Regions from separate parts of the Homo sapiens genome. Here regions 1 and 3 are each linked to region 2. Evidence: fine-mapped expression QTL. A gene starts in region 2. Each other region holds a variant in brackets. All regions are shown on one strand. Distances are from middle to middle. Region 1 has its middle 18 kb from the start of ATP2B2-IT1. Region 2 holds the start of ATP2B2 (ATPase plasma membrane Ca2+ transporting 2). Region 3 overlaps ATP2B2 (ATPase plasma membrane Ca2+ transporting 2).

Region 1 (2,754 bases), 47 kb after region 2:
CAGCTCCTATTCTTAAGGAGCTCATGGGACAGTTAGAGTACCTGATGGAGGAGTGATCAGTGAATTCAGTGGGGGAAAGATGAGAGACGCAGCCTGCAGTGAAGCAGGTAGTATGGCTTTAGGACCTGGCAAGGCAGTGGTGAATGGACGTGCCGATTATCAAGCCCACCATGGGCACAGATGGGGCCAAAGCGGCCAAGCTCAACGTCTCAGATGCGGATCTGTGATCACTGTCAGTGCTACTTGCAAGATACAATCCCTGATGCAGTTCCTTCCTCTGTAACACCCCACTAACACGCATGCATATTCCACAGCCCTGCTTTGGCAATGCAAAGTTTTGTATAAAGAAATATTTTGCTGTAAACATATTTCTATTCTAGGCTAACTCAGATTTAGAGATAGATTTTTCTTTCCTTTTAAGAAATCAAGAGTTCAAACCTTCAGCCCGGCAACTGTACACAATTGCTCACAATTATGTTTCATTCAAACAAGAACACAATGTATCAATCATATTTACCTGTTTTGGTCTGTCTCCAATTCCAAAAGCTACCTTGGTCTGCCAGTAAAGGGGAGTCACATCTGGGAATGTCCTGGCCATGTGACCCCAAGCATGTCTCACTTTCCCCATCTGTTGAAAAGGGGACTCTAGCTTCTTCCTGGGCTGTGGGAAGCAGGACATGAAGTCTAGGCTGGGCCAGCTCCCTAGGGCCCTCAGCAAATGGAAGTTGCGAACATTAACGCTGCTTTTGAACAATGCCAAGGTTGCATAAGAAATGTAGCCATGCCTATCATGGGGCTGGGTTTGGGCTTTCTGTAACACTGATTCCGAACAATGTCAAAAGTTGCATAAGGAACCTCACTGTGCCTATCCTGGGGCCCAGTTTTGGCTTTCTAGAGCTCGCCTGTGGCAGCATTTCTGCAGCCGGAGAGGGAACACCCTTCCCACGGCCGCCGCCTCGGTGCCGGTTGGTGACTCATAGCACTGGCGAGGGGCGTGGGCGGGAAACCACATAGGCATCACCATGGCATCTGACAGATTTGCCCCTGTGGAGCTACTCTGTAAAGAAAAGGGGAAGAGGGGGCCCTTCTCCTCCTGCAAGGTGAGTGGGGCACAGAGGGAACAGCTTTCGTCAGCCGAACCCCCTTGCTGCAACGTGGCTGGAAGCCAACCTTAGAGAAGGTGGCAGCGTCCTGCCTTCCGCCCAAAGTGAGTGCTGGCCTGGCTCCTGGGGTGAGGGAAAAATCCCATCTTGTGGGTGCTGCCCTCCATAGCTCCCTCTCACACAAACAC[G/T]TTCAAAGTCTTCTCACATACTTAACATCAGAAAGGCAATCCAGAACCTCCCATTTGTGAGCAACAGCTATGTGCTGGGTTGGCTCCCCTCAGCACTGCTTTTATGTTATTTGCTTCCTTCCATCCTCAGGATGACTTGTTCTTATCTCCTCTTACAAATGAAGAAACTGAGGCTAGAAGTTGCCCGAGGCCACAGTGCTGCCCTGAGGCAGAGCTGGGGTTCCAACCAAGATGTGTTCCCTGTGCTCAAAAATGGGTCAGGAAATTTACAAATGGGTGTCTGTGGGCATGTGAGAAGCAGGTGAACTGGAGAACATCCAGGAAGTGCAACTGCTGAGGCCACAGACAGCTCAGGGCAGAAACACTCATTTTAGGCAGCTGTCACTTTCCAAAGGACTTTCTATGTGCTGTCTCATTTACTTTCCATAACAGTTCTATGAAGTGGGAGCTAACATCTCCATTTCGAAGGCAAGGAGGCAGAGATTGAATTGCTCCTCAAGGGCATCCAACTGCTCTGTCCTCTATGGCCTCCAGCCTCCAGTTCCCCATCTGTGCAATGGGAATATATTAAAATCACACCTTCAGATGATGTCAGGGTTAAATGAGGGAACATAACAGAAATGCTTTAGAAACTGCAAAATGCCACCGGAATTCTATGGAGTATTATTATTTACTAAAATAGCTTAGTGAAGACAACACAAATAAGTCTGAGAATTGCAAGGTTCTAGATTCAGACCTAGATTTCTGCAGAGTGTTTAAGCGGTGTTCTTTCCCGGACTGGAAGCTCCTGAAAGCAGGGACCACGTCTGGTTTGCCTCAGTTTCCTCAGCGCCCTGTTCCATGCCTGACACAGAGAGGGACCTTGAAAAAGCTAGGTGAAACTATTCAGGATTAATTCAGACTGGGAAAGAGGGTGGAGGGGAAGAACAATGGGATTGAGGGCTGGAAGTGGCCTTTTAGAGGTGGGTGACCAGAAGGTTGATGTTCCAACTCTTGAGAATGAAAACGCCTCTTTTAATAGTCTTGATAAAATGGAACTGTTCTGGGCCAGCAGGGACATACAGTCATACTACTTAAATATTTAGTACTTATTTAGTCTGATCCCCATGTTGTGGGGGAAACTGAGGCCCTCAGAGGATTGCAGAGCTGGGGGGGAAACCCAGGACTCCCTGCCCCTCCATAGGCCTGCTCTTGGAAGAGCCAGAGCAGCAGCTCGGAGTGGGTGGAGCTTGCTTTTAGTGCCTGCAGCTCTCTGGAAGGAACTGGGTGTTATCGAGATAATCCAAAGTTTCTGTTGGGTAAATATCAACACTTCTGGGCCCGTTACTAAGGGCCTGGGTGGTTGCTAAGCGGCCCTATGACCTCATGAGGGGGCCATTGTTTAGCACTCAATAGGCATCCTTGAGTGACATCCCCCAGCTCCCAAATCCCAGGGGCCCCTGGGGTTTTGTGAAAAGAAGCAA
Region 2 (2,754 bases):
ACCCCAAACGTCAGCTCTGCCTCCTCCCAGCGATTCGGAGAGCAATGCAGGAGAGGAGGGAGCCCCTTCCACGCTGGGCTCAGGGCATGCAGCGTCGCACTAAGACCCTCTGCCGGCTGGTCGGGCTTGCCTGCTCACTTACCCTTCTGAAGGTCGAGCCAGGCTGGGCCTCTGCATGGAGGGCCCGAGACCCCCAGGGCCCTTGCCTGATTGGGGCAGGCCAGTCCAGAGCACCCCCCCAACCCCCAACCCCCAACCTGGGTGAGCAGAGGACAGCCGTGGTGTGGAATAGCTACTTGGCTAGAAAGGGGTTGCTGCTGTCCGCAACCCACCCTCAGGGAGTCCTGAGGCCCCCTGCTGCATTTTCCCATCCTGACCCTGCAGGGGGCAGGGAGGAGCCTCAGGTGCCCTATCCCTCAGCTGGAGACCACTGAGGCTGGCCTAGGAAGTGGGCTTCTGGGCAGAGGGTGCCGACTCCACCACCCAGCATGACTGCTGCAAAATGGCCTGGCCACCCGTTCCTGCCACCCTCCTGGCCATGGAGGGGACCCAGGAACACGTCCCTGCCACCACATGACCCGGCTGGCCTGACCCAATGAGTCCCAGCACACAGCTGCCCACCCCACCAAAGGGACGCTTCACAGGGGCCTCCTCCTGCCTCTTTCCTGGGACTCTGACCAGGGTGGGCAACGGGCACCCTCCAGTCCTCTTGGTCTCCCTGGGACCGGCTCAGAGAGAAGAGAACCTTGTCCCCTGCCACCAGCTTGCTGGCCCTTGCATAACATCCTTAGGGGGCATTTGCAGTCCAGAGGCTGCCGGAATCTACCTGAGACCCTGGGCATCCGCTTGTCCGAGGCCCCCCTGTCCTAGTCCCCAGCATCCAGCCGTCCCCCACAACACGCGGACCCTCACACTAGTGTCTCCCTCAGCGGCGGCTCCCAGTGCAGCCTCGGCTGCTGCCAGATAAACAAGCCCTGCTCCCACCCCCCCTCCACGCTGCCACCGCCACCACCATCAGCACTGAGAAAAATCAAATGAAATGAAACAAAATAAAATGGGTGAGGGAGGAAGGGGAGAGTGGAGTGGGGCGCTTTTTATTTTTTATTTTCTCATGCTGGGGGATGCCGGTACTTACTTGGCTATGAAAATCACCACCAATCCTGCACGGTTTCCCGGCGGGCAGCCCCGTAATCGCGGTGCGGCAGCTGGTGCCGCGGCTGAGCCCAGCCAGCGTGCCCGGGCCCCTCTGCAGACTGTACCATCCTGCCCGAGCGGGTGGGGGGCGGGGGGCGGAGGCGCCGGCGCCGGTTCTAGGAGAGCATCTCGCCGGCAAAATGCAATCTCGGGGGAGGCAGAGGCCGCCCCTGCCGCTGCCGGAGGCTGGGGGATGGGGGCGGGAGGAGGGAGGGAGGGAGGGACACAGGGAGGGCCGGTTCTGGAGGGGGCACGGGGGAGGAGAGTGGGGGGCGGGGGGGGTGTGTGGACCGAACCACCACGCTGTTGTTTGCGGTTTTAATTCCTCCCGTGGGATCATGAGGAACCGAAGCTGGCAGAGTCCCAGGAATATGCCCGCTCCCCAGAAGCAGGAGGGAATGTCAAGGGCACGGAGAGGGTAGGGCTGGGCTGTGCTGGAGGGAAGGGGGTCCTGAGAGTGGTGGTGGGGAGAACGGGAGCAGAGAGGGGAGGATTTTGCTCAAATGGCCCCAAGTCGTCCCTTGCTTTCTGGGGGACTTATTTGGTCAGGGGCTCTGGCCCCCCTCTTTGCAGTCAAGGCACCCCCAGACCTGGGGGGCAAAGGGGCAAAGGTCGCAAATGGGGAGAAGTCGACTCAACACATTTTAAACACATCTGTGTTTCCAGGGCCAGTGGAGCTGAGCCCGCAGCAGCTCTCTGCTGCCCTGAAGCGCTACCCCTGCGACCCGCCCTGCCTGTGTGCGACCCCACCTGCCCTCGGGGGGGTGTGGTGGTGGGGGCTGGCTTGGCAGAAGGGCCTGCCTCAAGAAGGTGCCCACCAGCAGGGGTGTCTGCATGTCTGTACACCCACCTAATCTTCAGGACATCTATGATGAGTTGCAGGCCGACTGTGGGCTGACTGACACTTCCACGGGAACCCAGGGACCCCGGGTGAGGAGTCGGTAGGGTTGGAAGCCCCTAGCCAGCTGCTCACCTCTTCCTGCCTAATCTCTGCCAGACTTGCTGCTCTTTCAACTCCAGATGGGTGGGAGGAGAGCCCTAAGAGCAAGGTTAGGAGGTCACCGGGGGCGAGGGGCTTCTCTAGAATTCTGAAGCCTTGGCCTCCACTGCCCTGCCCCCTCCAGGAGGGGTACCCTGCTTGGAGGGAGGGCACTGAAGGTGGAAGGACCTTCAGGACCAGTGTCTCAGGGCACCTGTCAGGGTGGAGGGGTGCATGGGGGACAGGGGCAGGGCTGGAGGCGGCCCCGGGAGGCAGTTCCAGGCAGAAGCTGCCTCTTTCCCCTGCCCCCACCTCCTGCCCACCTCTGAGCTGCCCGCCCGAGCGTCCCGAGCTGCCGCTCCATCCCTGGGCTGGCACAGAATACCAATTTGTCTCGTTAAGCTGAAAGTCTGCACTGCACCAAAATCAGAACCCGGCCGTGCAGAGGGGCCACGGGAGGGAGACAGTTGGGAGCGCCTGAGGTGGGTCTCCCACCAGTAGGCCATGCTGAGACCTCCTTGCTCCTCAGCCCCCAGCCCCATGGAAGGGTGCCCACCTGCCCCTTAGCCCGCAGGGTGGCC
Region 3 (2,754 bases), 110 kb before region 2:
TATGATGCAGGACACACTACCTTCTCAGATGGGGGAGTAAGAATTCCACCCTGGCCTGGCTGGACAGTGTCACAGAGGCCTTGACAGCCATGACAGTGACTCTCCGACATGCCATGCCTTGCTTCTGGAACTCACTTCTGCTTTTCAGAGTTCTCTTTTCTGTCCCCTCGAGACTAGGTGCCACTTCTTCCTGTTTTCAGCATAACTTATCTCTCACTGTGTTTTGGTTTGCCTCAGATTTGAAGTCTATGTCAGGAAACTCATTAGAATTGTATCTAAAATAAGGGTTGAGGGGTTCTGGGTCAGACCTAAAGAGCTTGCCTTAAGCAAGGTATCTGTTTTCACTTTTTAAGTGGTATCACCCACCTTGTCCCTTTCCTTGTAGGATCTGAGTGATATCCCGATGTTGTGTGTGTGTGTGCCTGTGTGTGTGTGCGTGCATGCTTTTGTGTGTGTGTGTGTGTGTGTGTGTGCGCTTGCAACAATCTAGCCTCTTGGTCTCTGGGGTCTCAGGATCTCAAAGTGCTTTACAGAGAGACAGACACTCTCCAGTGATTCCTTTCAGGCACGTAAATGCCAGCCTCTCCCTGCACAGATGCAGAAACCAAGTCATGAAGGCTCACAGAGGGGGTGTGCGGAACCCAGATTCTCAGATGGCAAGCTCTTTGGCCATTCCCAGGACAGAAGGACAGTGCTTTTTTTCCCCCTTGGCAGGGCACAGTGGGGACCACAGAATGAGCTCAGACATTGGCTCTAGGCTGAGCAGCCCAGGCCTGGTGGCTTCTCATCACAGGCAGACCCTGGAGCACCCCACCCTGCTCTGTCACCCTGCTGAGGGCCAGTAACAGGGCCTTGTTCATTATAATAACTTGCTGACAAGATGCCTCCGTGGGCACCAGCTCGGCTTGTTAGGGTGCTAGGAGGAGGGGCTGTTACATATCAGCATTAGACAGATAAGAAACTGGGGTCTCATGGCGGGTATCACTGGAGACTCTTCAAAGGAGAGGAAGGAACACTACGCTGCATTCATAGGGCACAGAAAGCAGTAACAGCCACCCAAGCTGACCTCTGTAGAACACCTACTGTGTGCAGGGCACATGCTGCCCTCCACGCTCAATGATCTCATCTAGTCCTCAAACTGGAGGAAACTGAGGCTCAGAGTGGAGGGGTGGACTGCCGAGTCACTCTGCAGGTGAGGGGCAGAGCCTGGACTTGAACTCTCTGCTGTCCCTGAGCCTGTTGTCTTTGTTACCTTCCACTTAGCCTCCAGGGGCAAGGCCCTCACATTCTGGTCTGAGACACATTCTGCTCTGAGTAGAAAGGTTCGCTGGAAATGAAGGCATTGGTTCTCTGGCTTAGGTGGCAACCAAGAGGCTGCTCCCCACCTCCCAACCCAAGACAGGATGGAAAAAGATGCAGGGGGCCAATTTCCACCCACGATAATCAGACTCCCAAATCACCTTCTAATCTAATCACTCCCATCGCAGCAGGGAGCTGGCAGCTCTACACCCACATCCGGAGGCAGGGAGGTGGCAGGAGGACGTCAGGGAGGGGCTTAGGCATAGTGCGCTCCCCGCCCAG[A/C]CCTGGAGATGCCCCAGGGTGTCCTCCAGAGCTGAGCAATAGCCAGGGCAGGGGAGACGGGGCATCTACAATCCCCAGTCCTCCCTCCCTCTGTCCTCCGGTATCCCCAAGCCTCTGCTCTTACCTGTCTCCCTCCAGTTCCAATCCCTTCTTCGAGGGTTTGGAGGGCTCCCTGAGGTCCAAACCACTCAGTCAGTGTCCCCTGGATGAGACCTCTGCCTTCTTGGCCCTGGACACTGAGTCCTGTCTCGTGGCCTCTGCCTTTGGAGTGTGCACAGTTCACTGGGCCTTGGTGTCTACCTCCCTGGCCTTTGCTCACAGTGATCACCTGAATGCCTTTCCCTCACCTCTTGCTCACAACCTCCTCCACAGGATGAATGCCCTTCTCCTTGGGTAGCCCTCCTGACTCCCACTAGGGGACTTCATCTGTCTCCTCTGAATCACCTGAAGTCTCCTCTGGGGGTGCTTCCAGGCCTGGCTCCTCAACCTGACCATGAGCCCCTTGAAGGCAGTGTCTGAGTGGGAGTGTCCTCTGGGCCTCCCCCGCACAGCCTGGTTTGGAGCTGCAACTCCAGCACAATTTTTTGTACTATTTTGAACTTTCCAGGGTGGGTATGTATTACATTTATAATTGGGAATACCAATGTCCCTAATAAATCATCTTTATGTTTTGCAGAGGGTCACATTCATCCCAGCTGTGCCCCCTCCTGCCACACCTCACTGGGCTGTGCCCTGTCCTCTCCCAGGCCCTCCTGCCAGGGGAAGACTCCAAAGGACTGGGGCATTCCCTAGACCGTTCCCCTTCAGCTCCACGAGTCCCCTGCAGAGGGCAATGCTTAACACCATGGCAGAAGCAATTAATGGCAGAGCAACAGACATCCAAGTCAAAGCGCAGTGGGCTAAACCTCTCAAAGGACGACCACAGGGGCAGAGGTGGGAACCTCTTGGGGATGGAGGCCCTGATAGGGCCTTGTGGGACCTCACTGTCCACAGTCCCTTGGGCAGCACTCTGTAGCCCCCACCTCCTCTAACTGCCCACAGAGCCCTTCAGAATACAAGCACGGGGAGGGGTAGAGAGAGAGCCCTGGACCCAGAAGAGGGCACCTGGGACATGGTGTCTAATTCTGATTGCTATGTGACCTTGGGGCCAGCCCCTCTCCTCTCTGGACCTCA

What was found. PIP is the estimated chance that this variant, and not a neighbour inherited with it, causes the effect.
Region 1: its variant is the best candidate, but not a certain one, in a credible set for the expression of ATP2B2 in sun-exposed skin (GTEx, PIP 0.51).
Region 3: its variant is the best candidate, but not a certain one, in a credible set for the expression of ATP2B2 in testis (GTEx, PIP 0.82).

Annotation. Positions count from the first base shown.
Region 1 is chr3:10,551,203-10,553,956 of GRCh38, forward strand. It overlaps a transcript of ATP2B2 not described here. Among named protein-coding and RNA genes, the nearest start is that of ATP2B2-IT1, 18 kb to the right of the region's middle. RefSeq lists a silencer at 2,483-2,754. The variant G/T (reference allele first, on the strand shown) is at 1,292.
Region 2 is chr3:10,504,330-10,507,083 of GRCh38, forward strand. It overlaps ATP2B2 (ATPase plasma membrane Ca2+ transporting 2), which reads right to left and starts at 1,257. Exons shown (of 23, transcript NM_001001331.4): 1 at 1,136-1,257. RefSeq lists enhancers at 1-579, 580-1,246.
Region 3 is chr3:10,390,052-10,392,805 of GRCh38, forward strand. The region is part of intron 5 of ATP2B2 (ATPase plasma membrane Ca2+ transporting 2); the gene reads right to left. Among named protein-coding and RNA genes, the nearest start is that of MIR885, 3.1 kb to the right of the region's middle. RefSeq lists a silencer at 40-240. The variant A/C (reference allele first, on the strand shown) is at 1,582.